2 linked regions of the Homo sapiens genome follow. The protein of the gene in region 2 interacts with the protein of the main gene of each other region in a pairwise test. Each region holds a gene or a part of one and is shown on either strand. Other genes may lie near its edges.

Region 1 (3,821 bases), on a different chromosome or scaffold from region 2:
AAAGAAAAATTCAGAATTTTCCTGCAAAGTATAGTTTTTTGTTCCACAGTTACTTTCAGTTAACTATAAGCCTGTACTATAGGCCAATGCTATCCAATAGAACTTTCTGTGGAAATGTTCTGTATCTGCCCTGCTGTGTATGGAAGCCATTAGTCACATGTGGAATTGAGCACTTGAAATACAGATACTGACTGAAGAACTGAATTTCAAATTTTATTTAATTTTAATTAATTTACATTTAAGTAACCACATATGACTAGTGCAGCAGTTTTTGGGTGATAATTTTTTCTCCGACGGATATTTAGCAATGTCTGGAGTTATATTTGGTTGTCAAAATGAGGGAGGAGCTACTTGTATGCACTGCATAGCAGGCAGGGACACTGCTAAACCTCCTACAGAGCACATGGTGACCCCTTTCCTCTAAAACCAAAGGAGTATTTTGCCCAAACTGTCAATGGTGCTGAACTTTAGAAACCCTGGGCTAATAGCTACTCTGTATTGACAGATATAGCACAGAACATACGGATTTTAGGTTCATGTTTATTTATAAATTAACTTTAACTAATACAGATGAAGAAGTTAAAAGTCTAGTTTAATTTGAGATAGTTAACAGTTTTTGTATCTGAAAGTTTGATGATAAGGTTAGAGCAATGAAGTGAGATTCGTGAGTCCGCTGTTCTGTTTTGTCCGTTGACATATAGGAGGCAAGGGCTTGTTTTTGTTTCCTTTCTCAGCTGAAATACTGACATTGAATATTATATGAAATAGTGAACTGCCATCTTTCATGGTTGTCAAATGCTAGGGTTAAAGCTGACTCAAAATGTTCACAGATATATTCTGAAGTATTTACAATTAAATGACATATTGTTTTGGAGTTGATAGTGGCTGAATCTGAGTGATGGGTACGTGGAGGTTCCTTATATTATGCTCTCTACTTTTGTCTGGGCTTGGATTTTTCCTTATAAAAAGTAAAAAACAAGTACTTAGACATAGGCCTAACTAATAATGATAGGATGTGGAATGTGATGAATAACTTATTTTGTAACAGAAATAGTATTCATTTTACCTGCCTTTATTTACTCTTTTACAATTGCCAAGTTGCATTAATATGTTCTGTTTAAAAAAATAGTGTGATATCATTTTAAAAAGTCACTGCATCTATGGTACTGACATTCTTTCCCTCTTACAGATTGTCCTGGGTCACATAATGCCAGCTGAGCGTAAAAAGCCAGCAAGTATGGAAGAAAAAGACTCTTTACCAAACAACAAGGAAAAAGACTGCAGTGAAAGGCGGACAGTGAGCAGCAAGGAGAGGCCAAAAGACGATATCAAGCTCACTGCCAAGAAGGAGGTCAGCAAGGCCCCTGAAGACAAGAAGAAGAGACTGGAAGATGATAAGAGAAAAAAGGAAGACAAGGAACGCAAGAAAAAAGACGAAGAAAAGGTGAAGGCAGAGGAAGAATCAAAGAAAAAAGAAGAGGAAGAAAAAAAGAAACATCAAGAGGAAGAGAGAAAGAAGCAAGAAGAGCAGGCCAAACGTCAGCAAGAAGAAGAAGCAGCTGCTCAGATGAAGTAAGGCAGTTGATTGTATTTATTGATGTGAGGGAATGGGAAGATTGGAATATTTTGGGAAAAAAACATTATTTGAAATATAGCGTCCTGGGTGCAGCTCTTTAAGAATTGGGAGTATCTTAATTTACTTGTTCTGTTAGTTTCACTGACTAGAGGCATGCTTAAGGTGTGTTAATTATTCAAATTAAATAATAGTAACAATCTTTAATGAGTACTGTTTTGAGGTCCTGGGTAATCTTTTATTTATTTATTTTGAGACGGAATTTTGCTCAGTCGCCCAGACTGGAGTGCAATGGCACCATCTTGGCTCACTCCAACCTCCGCCTCCTGGGTTCAAGTGATTCTCCTGCCTCAGCCTCCCGAGTAGCTGGGATTACAGGCACCTGCCATCATGCCCAGCTAATTTTTGTATTTTTGTAGAGATGGCGTTTCACCATGTTGGCCAGGCTGGTCTTGAGCTCCTGACCTCAGGTGATCCGCCCGCCTCAGCCTCCCCAAAGTGCTGGGATTACAGGTGTGAGCCACCGCACCTGGCTGTTTATTTTTTAAAGACTTTTTTTCATACAAAATTAGTCAGGCATGGTGGCGCATGCCTGTAGTCCCAGTTACTCAGGAGGCTGAAGTAGGAGAATCGCTTGAACCTAGCAGGTGGAGGTTGCAGTGAGCCAAGACTGTGCCACTGCACTCCTGCCTGGGCAACAGAGCAAGACTGCATCTCAAAAAAAAAAAAATAAAATAATAAAATAAAAACTTTTTTTCATGGTATGATAGTACTCCATTTTTTAAAAAAATTGAAAACCTTCAGTTGGCTGATGTTTGTTGAGTTCTTATCTATCAGGCATTGTACAGAATATATTAGCATCTATCCTTAGGACAATCCCAGTGAAGTAAGTTTTATGATCCTCATTTTACAGATTAACAAAATGAAGCTTAAGGAGGGTAAGTTGCTTAAGGTCACAGCAAATAGTAGAGCTGTTGGGATTTAAAGCTAGGTTGGTCTGACTTTAAAACTTTTGACTATTCATTAAGCACAATTCCACAATGCCTTCCATTCTTATCTTTATTTAAATCTGTTTTTAAGCTTGTAAACCTGTGCAAGTAAATAATAAACTAGTGAAAAATGTAGTTCTTACAGGAGAAACACCAGAGATGCATCAGCAGTGACTACTGTTGAATAGCATAAGCTCTTCTCTAAATATAAAACTTATTAGGCCGGGCATGGTGGTTCACGCCTGTAAACCCAGCCCTTTGGGAGGCTGAGGCAGGAGGATTGGTTGAGCTCAGGAGTTCAAGACCAGCCTGGTCAATATAGCGAGACCCTGTCTCTATGAAGAAAAATAAGGGAAAGCATAAATATATAACTTATTTATTTTTAACTAAAAAAGTTTTTTTTTAATTTAAGAGGGCAACTTACCCTTTTTAAGCCTCATTTTATTGATCTCTAAAATGAGGCTTGTAGAATTTAACTTCATTGGTACTGTCTTAAGGATATTTGCTAATATATTTTGTACAGTGCCTGGTAACATAACAAGAGCTCAACAAACTCCAGCCAGGCTGGAGTGTAGTGGTACAATGCCAGCTCACTGCAGCCTTGACCTCCCAGGCTCAAGCCATCCTCCCACCACATCCTCCTTGGTAGCGGGAACTACAGGTGCGTGCCACCACACCTGGGTATTTTTGTACTTTTTGTAGATAGAGTTTCACCATGTTGCCCAGGCTAGTCTTGAACTCTTGGACTCAAGAAGTCCTCCTGCCTCAGCCTCCCAAAGTGTTGAGATTACAGGCATGAGCCACCATGCCTGGCCTAAAAAATCGTTTTTGGAAACGGTGTCTTTCTTTTTTTTCTAAGTTAGTCTGTAATTGCTGAGCTCAAGCGATCCTCCCACTACAGCCTCCCTAGTAGCTGGGACTACAGATGTACACTACTTTGCGTGGCCAAATATATAATTTAAAAACCTTTTTGCAAGCACGATTTTGTATAGATCTCTAGAACAGCCACCTTTCTTCTCAGAGTTGTTCTTTAGGACTTCTACTTTCTTCCCATTTTTGGGGGGGTGATGGTGGCATTGCTGTTGTTACCCAGGCTGGAGTGCAGTGGCTATTCTCAGGTTCCATCATAACGTACTGCAGTCTCCAACTCCTGTGCTCAAGTGATTCCTCCTGCCTCCTGAGTAGCTGTCATTACAGGCTCGTGCCACCACCCCTGGCCAGGACCTCTTTTAATAAGGAACAGAAGCCTTAGGTCTGCA
Region 2 (4,330 bases):
CTCAACTGCAACCAGTCTCCTCTTGGGTGGTAGCTCATATTTATAACTTTAAACAGCTCATAGGGAGGGATCAAGACTTCCTTCTTGAGGGAGAAGTACTGTACAGGTGCACCCAGGCAGGTGAATATGGTAAATAGTGTCTGGTTCCCAAACTCCTGTGCCTCTTCTTTCAGGAGGGATGTGGAGAGGAATTGGCCAAATCGAATGGTGGCCCCTGTGTAGGCATTAAAGTGGACATCCTTCGTCCTATAATGCACCTCATAGCACAGAGTGCCATTCTCCATGATGCTGTCTTTCCTCAGCAGCTGGATTGCTGAGGTGAGGTAGTAGTGTAAATATTTGAAGTGGAATGAACGTTCATACTGCTGTGGAGTCCTGGCAACAGAGGCCATGGCTCTAGTAAAGTCAGAATGAACATTGCTGTTCAATGTATAAAACAAAATAGCCACAGCGTGTGTGGTAGTCATGTTCTGGGGTAGAACTTTTCCTTGGTTAAGCCAGGCTAAGTGGGCTTTTTGCCACATCCTAAAATAATTCTTCTGGGCTTCTATGTCTTTTGTGAAATAATCCCCTTGAGTTAGTTTCTCCATAACCTGTTTGCTACAGCCTTGGTACTGATCATCAAAAGAACCTGGTGCGAAGTCGAAGTCGATTTTAATTGCAACCTGTAAAAAAAGAAAAATCTTGAGTTTAATTTTTCAAATCAGATGGTGAATGTGGTTGCAGATTTGCTGTACTCTATAAGGGTAAGTCTTCTCCTGGAAACCAATATTTACTGAAGTAAGTTACACTGAAAATCATTACACTGTTCCAATCCTTACTGCATCAATGACCTGTGCTAGAGATTGAATTTGGTTTGATAAATAAATTACTGAAAGCTTGAAAAACTCATCTCCCCAGAGAGGAAGTAACTCTTTTAATATCACTAAAATCACAGCATGTTTGCATAGTAAGTACTTTGAAGAAAAAATTCAAAATCTTGTAGTTTAATTACACTTTCTGTTTCCTCTACTTTCCCCCCTCTTTCTAGTCTCTCACTGGTGTTTTCAAAAATATCACTTTTATGAATGCCCAAAACCAAATTAAATCCTTGAACTTTATCCTTAAGCTATGAATAGTACTAAGGGGGCTCTCATAAGTAACAACCTTCTTGTCTACCTGGGTTCTGAAAACATTGATAATAAAAATAGCAAAATATGAAAGCCAAAATATCTGTTTTCTTACTGAAAAAGGGCACGCTACAGCAGTCACATTGTTAGGTCTGATAGCAAGTGGCTTGTTAAGAGCAAATTCCAGAATGGGACCGACTCGTTTGCAGGCAGTACTGAACTGGGGCCTGCCCAGGTAAGATTCTTGTCATGGGGAAACAGAGAACTGATGCCCTTTGCCATCAGGCTAACTCCCAGGAGGATGAAGAGCAGAGCCAAACTCAGCACACCCAGTTGTTTTTTCCCATGTTACCAGTCAAGTACATTTGTCCCCCTCAGGGACAGCAGAGTGAGTCAAGGGTTGGACAGTGGTCAGGAATGTGCCTAGGAAAGTCCCTCCCCTCCTGGAAAAGGACATTCCTTTCTAATGGGTAGCCAACAGAATGTTGTTTATTCACGTCTAGTGCATGCTAAACTGAAATGACAGATTTGAATAGAAGTCCACAAAATATCATCAGACTATCATTTAGAGCCATATATAAATTATATAAATTCTAAAACATTCCTTTCTTGGCAAAGAAATGATGTTTTCGTAATAAACAGTACTCATTGAGGGACATGTTAAAGGATCACATTCCATCCAGTCAATGTTAAGGATGTTGGAACTGGAACTTAAAGAACATCCCATTTGGTATTTTTACTATGTTATTTATGATGAGACGTCAGCTAGTTGTTTGTGAACTAGAACACATTTTTAAGACTGATTAAATGATTTTAACCAATAACTCTTCACATCAGGTATTAAAATAGGTCTACGGTATCTATTTAAGCCAAGCCGAGCCAAACCAAACCAATAATACAATGTTCTGTCAACTGTCATGATGAACTCTGAAACTTTGTTAATATGTTACTAGATCTCAAATATGTACTCTGTCATCTCTTAACATTAGGTTGTTTTTTGTTACACAGATCTTTATTAAAATATTCACTTAAAACTTAAGTCAATCTGTATGCTAGAGTTTAAAGCCAAATAGACTTGGTTTATTTTGCATTGTTTGTACTATGGAAGCAATATTTTACTTAATTTTTACAGTGGATCAGGAAAATAACTTTATGCCACTAGCATCCATAATGTCAAGTGTACTAACAGTGAAGGATTCTACAATTTTTCATAACTGTTTTCAACACTCTTTACTAACATGATTTGTTAAAATGTCTGAATGAAACTAGATTCTGAATGCCTAAGTTTTCGGCCATTTAAAGGCTGTGGCCGGGTGAATGCTCTGTTGGAGCACTGATCATAAAGAGATCACCCCCTCAATTGTCCCCCTACCTCAGAACCCTCTGTGGGTCTCTGCAGGCCAGAGAGGAGCAGCAGGAATGGCAGCAGGCCTCCAAGGAGCCAGATTCTCATCGTTGCAGGAGGTACAGTAGTTGGGAGAAGAATCTTCTTGCATCTGTTGATCAATGGACCCATTTGCTTGTGTCACAAGTACTTCTCCTTTGCCCTTGCAGCTTCATCCTGAGATGAATTCTCAGAGTTCTCCTTTGAGGTTTTCTTTCAGTCTCATCCGTAACCGTTTTTTCCCCTGTCTATGCTGAGCAACTTCTGTTGCCCACCAACAACCAATAGCTTGTCTGAGGGAAGAAATCAACTCCGACTTCTTTGCAAAACTGAAATCTCTGTGAAATAGCCAGATGCGCACACCAAATAAGGGTTTCTAAAGAGAACCCAAGTTACTTTTCAATTAAAAAAATAAAATCTCTGATCTAGTCTGTATTCAGGGGAATGCCGAAGTCCTGTTAAGTGTCAGACTCAGCAGTTCAGCCTTCCCTTTCCCAGCCAAACAGGAAAAAGCATGCTCTGTCCAGCGTTTGGGGCCAAGTAGCATTATCTGGAGCCCCAGGCTTCCATCAAAACTGATAAGATTGGCATGCGCAGGGCGGCTGGGAACGCGCCACCCTGGGTGTCTATAGGCTCATCTGGCCCTGCTGATAGGCCCTGCCCAGGACGGGCGTTCACAGAGCAAAGTGTGTTTTAGAGTTATTGTCAAAAAGAAGGCTCTTTGTACTGCTTTTCCCTGGCACCTTTGAAACTCTCCAATCCAGAGATTGTACCTCTGGGTTCAAAGCTCTTCCCCCATTTTCTCTTCTGAAGACAGGCCCTCTGTCCGCACAGTTCCAGTCTCCAGTGAATCCTAATGACGACTGTCAGGAGACTGCTTATGTAGAGCTGACATAAGTTAAAATAGGGTCCACTGTGCAAACTTAATCCAGCACAGTTCTATTAAGCACTCTCTTTTAGGTAGGTACTACCCTTTCTAGTCTAAACATCCTTCTTCTCCTCCCAACCCTTGATATAATTATATTTTCTTGCAAATATTTTGTATTTATACTTCTGGATTCATTATTTAAGAAACTAAAAGTTAGCAATCCTTGATAATTGTTTTTCTTGCAAATATTTACTTCTGGATTCAATTTTTAACTTTTAAGGTAAACTAAGTGCTGTTCTTAAGTATTCTAGAATTTTTTGGCACCCTGAATTTTTTTAATCTAAATTTTCTGATGATCACAGCAGTTCTGTCTCATTAACAAATATTCAGAATATTTAGAAAGCACAAAGGAGAAAAAAATGACACATAACCCGTCACTTGGAGACAGCCACTAATTAGGTCTGGATTTTGATTTATACACCCTTAGACATACACACACACAGGTTTCTAGAACTGAAATAATATAGTATGCAGTTTTGCATACTGTTTATTCCCCTTAATATTTTAATGTAAGCATGTCCCTATATAATTTAATACCTATTGAAACATTTTTTAAACAAAGGTTCACTATATTCCATTACATAGGTGCTGCCACACAATGGGACAGCATGGGTGGATCCATGGACAGTCTCAGAAGAAGATTGATAAGTGACTAGAACATGGACTCTTGAATAAGACATCTCAGTTCAATTCCTGGTGCTCCTTCTTCCTAAATGTGTGATCTTGGACAAGCTACTTAACCTCTCTGTCTCTCTGTTTCCTCATGTGTTGAATGGAGATAATAATAGTACCAACTTCATTTTAGTGTTGATACATTCATACTCCTTAGAATAGCATCTGGCACCTAGAAATTTTCCAACAAATAAAACCAATTATTATTATTTGCACCAAAGTTTATTTAATAAATAT

What was found.
Region 1: the proteins of ART4 (region 2) and UPF2 interact in a two-hybrid assay, tested with the Homo sapiens proteins (one large-scale study listed by BioGRID).

What each region holds. Positions count from the first base shown.
Region 1 is NC_000010.11:12,032,810-12,036,630, reverse strand, and holds part of UPF2 (regulator of nonsense transcripts 2), read left to right. Parts: intron 1-1,189; 5' UTR 1,190-1,207; coding exon 1,208-1,572; intron 1,573-3,821. UniProt on the Homo sapiens protein: Involved in nonsense-mediated decay (NMD) of mRNAs containing premature stop codons by associating with the nuclear exon junction complex (EJC).
Region 2 is NC_000012.12:14,840,489-14,844,818, forward strand, and holds the start of ART4 (ecto-ADP-ribosyltransferase 4 isoform 1 precursor), read right to left. Parts: upstream 3,039-4,330; 5' UTR 2,626-3,038; coding exon 2,482-2,625; intron 666-2,481; coding exon 1-665.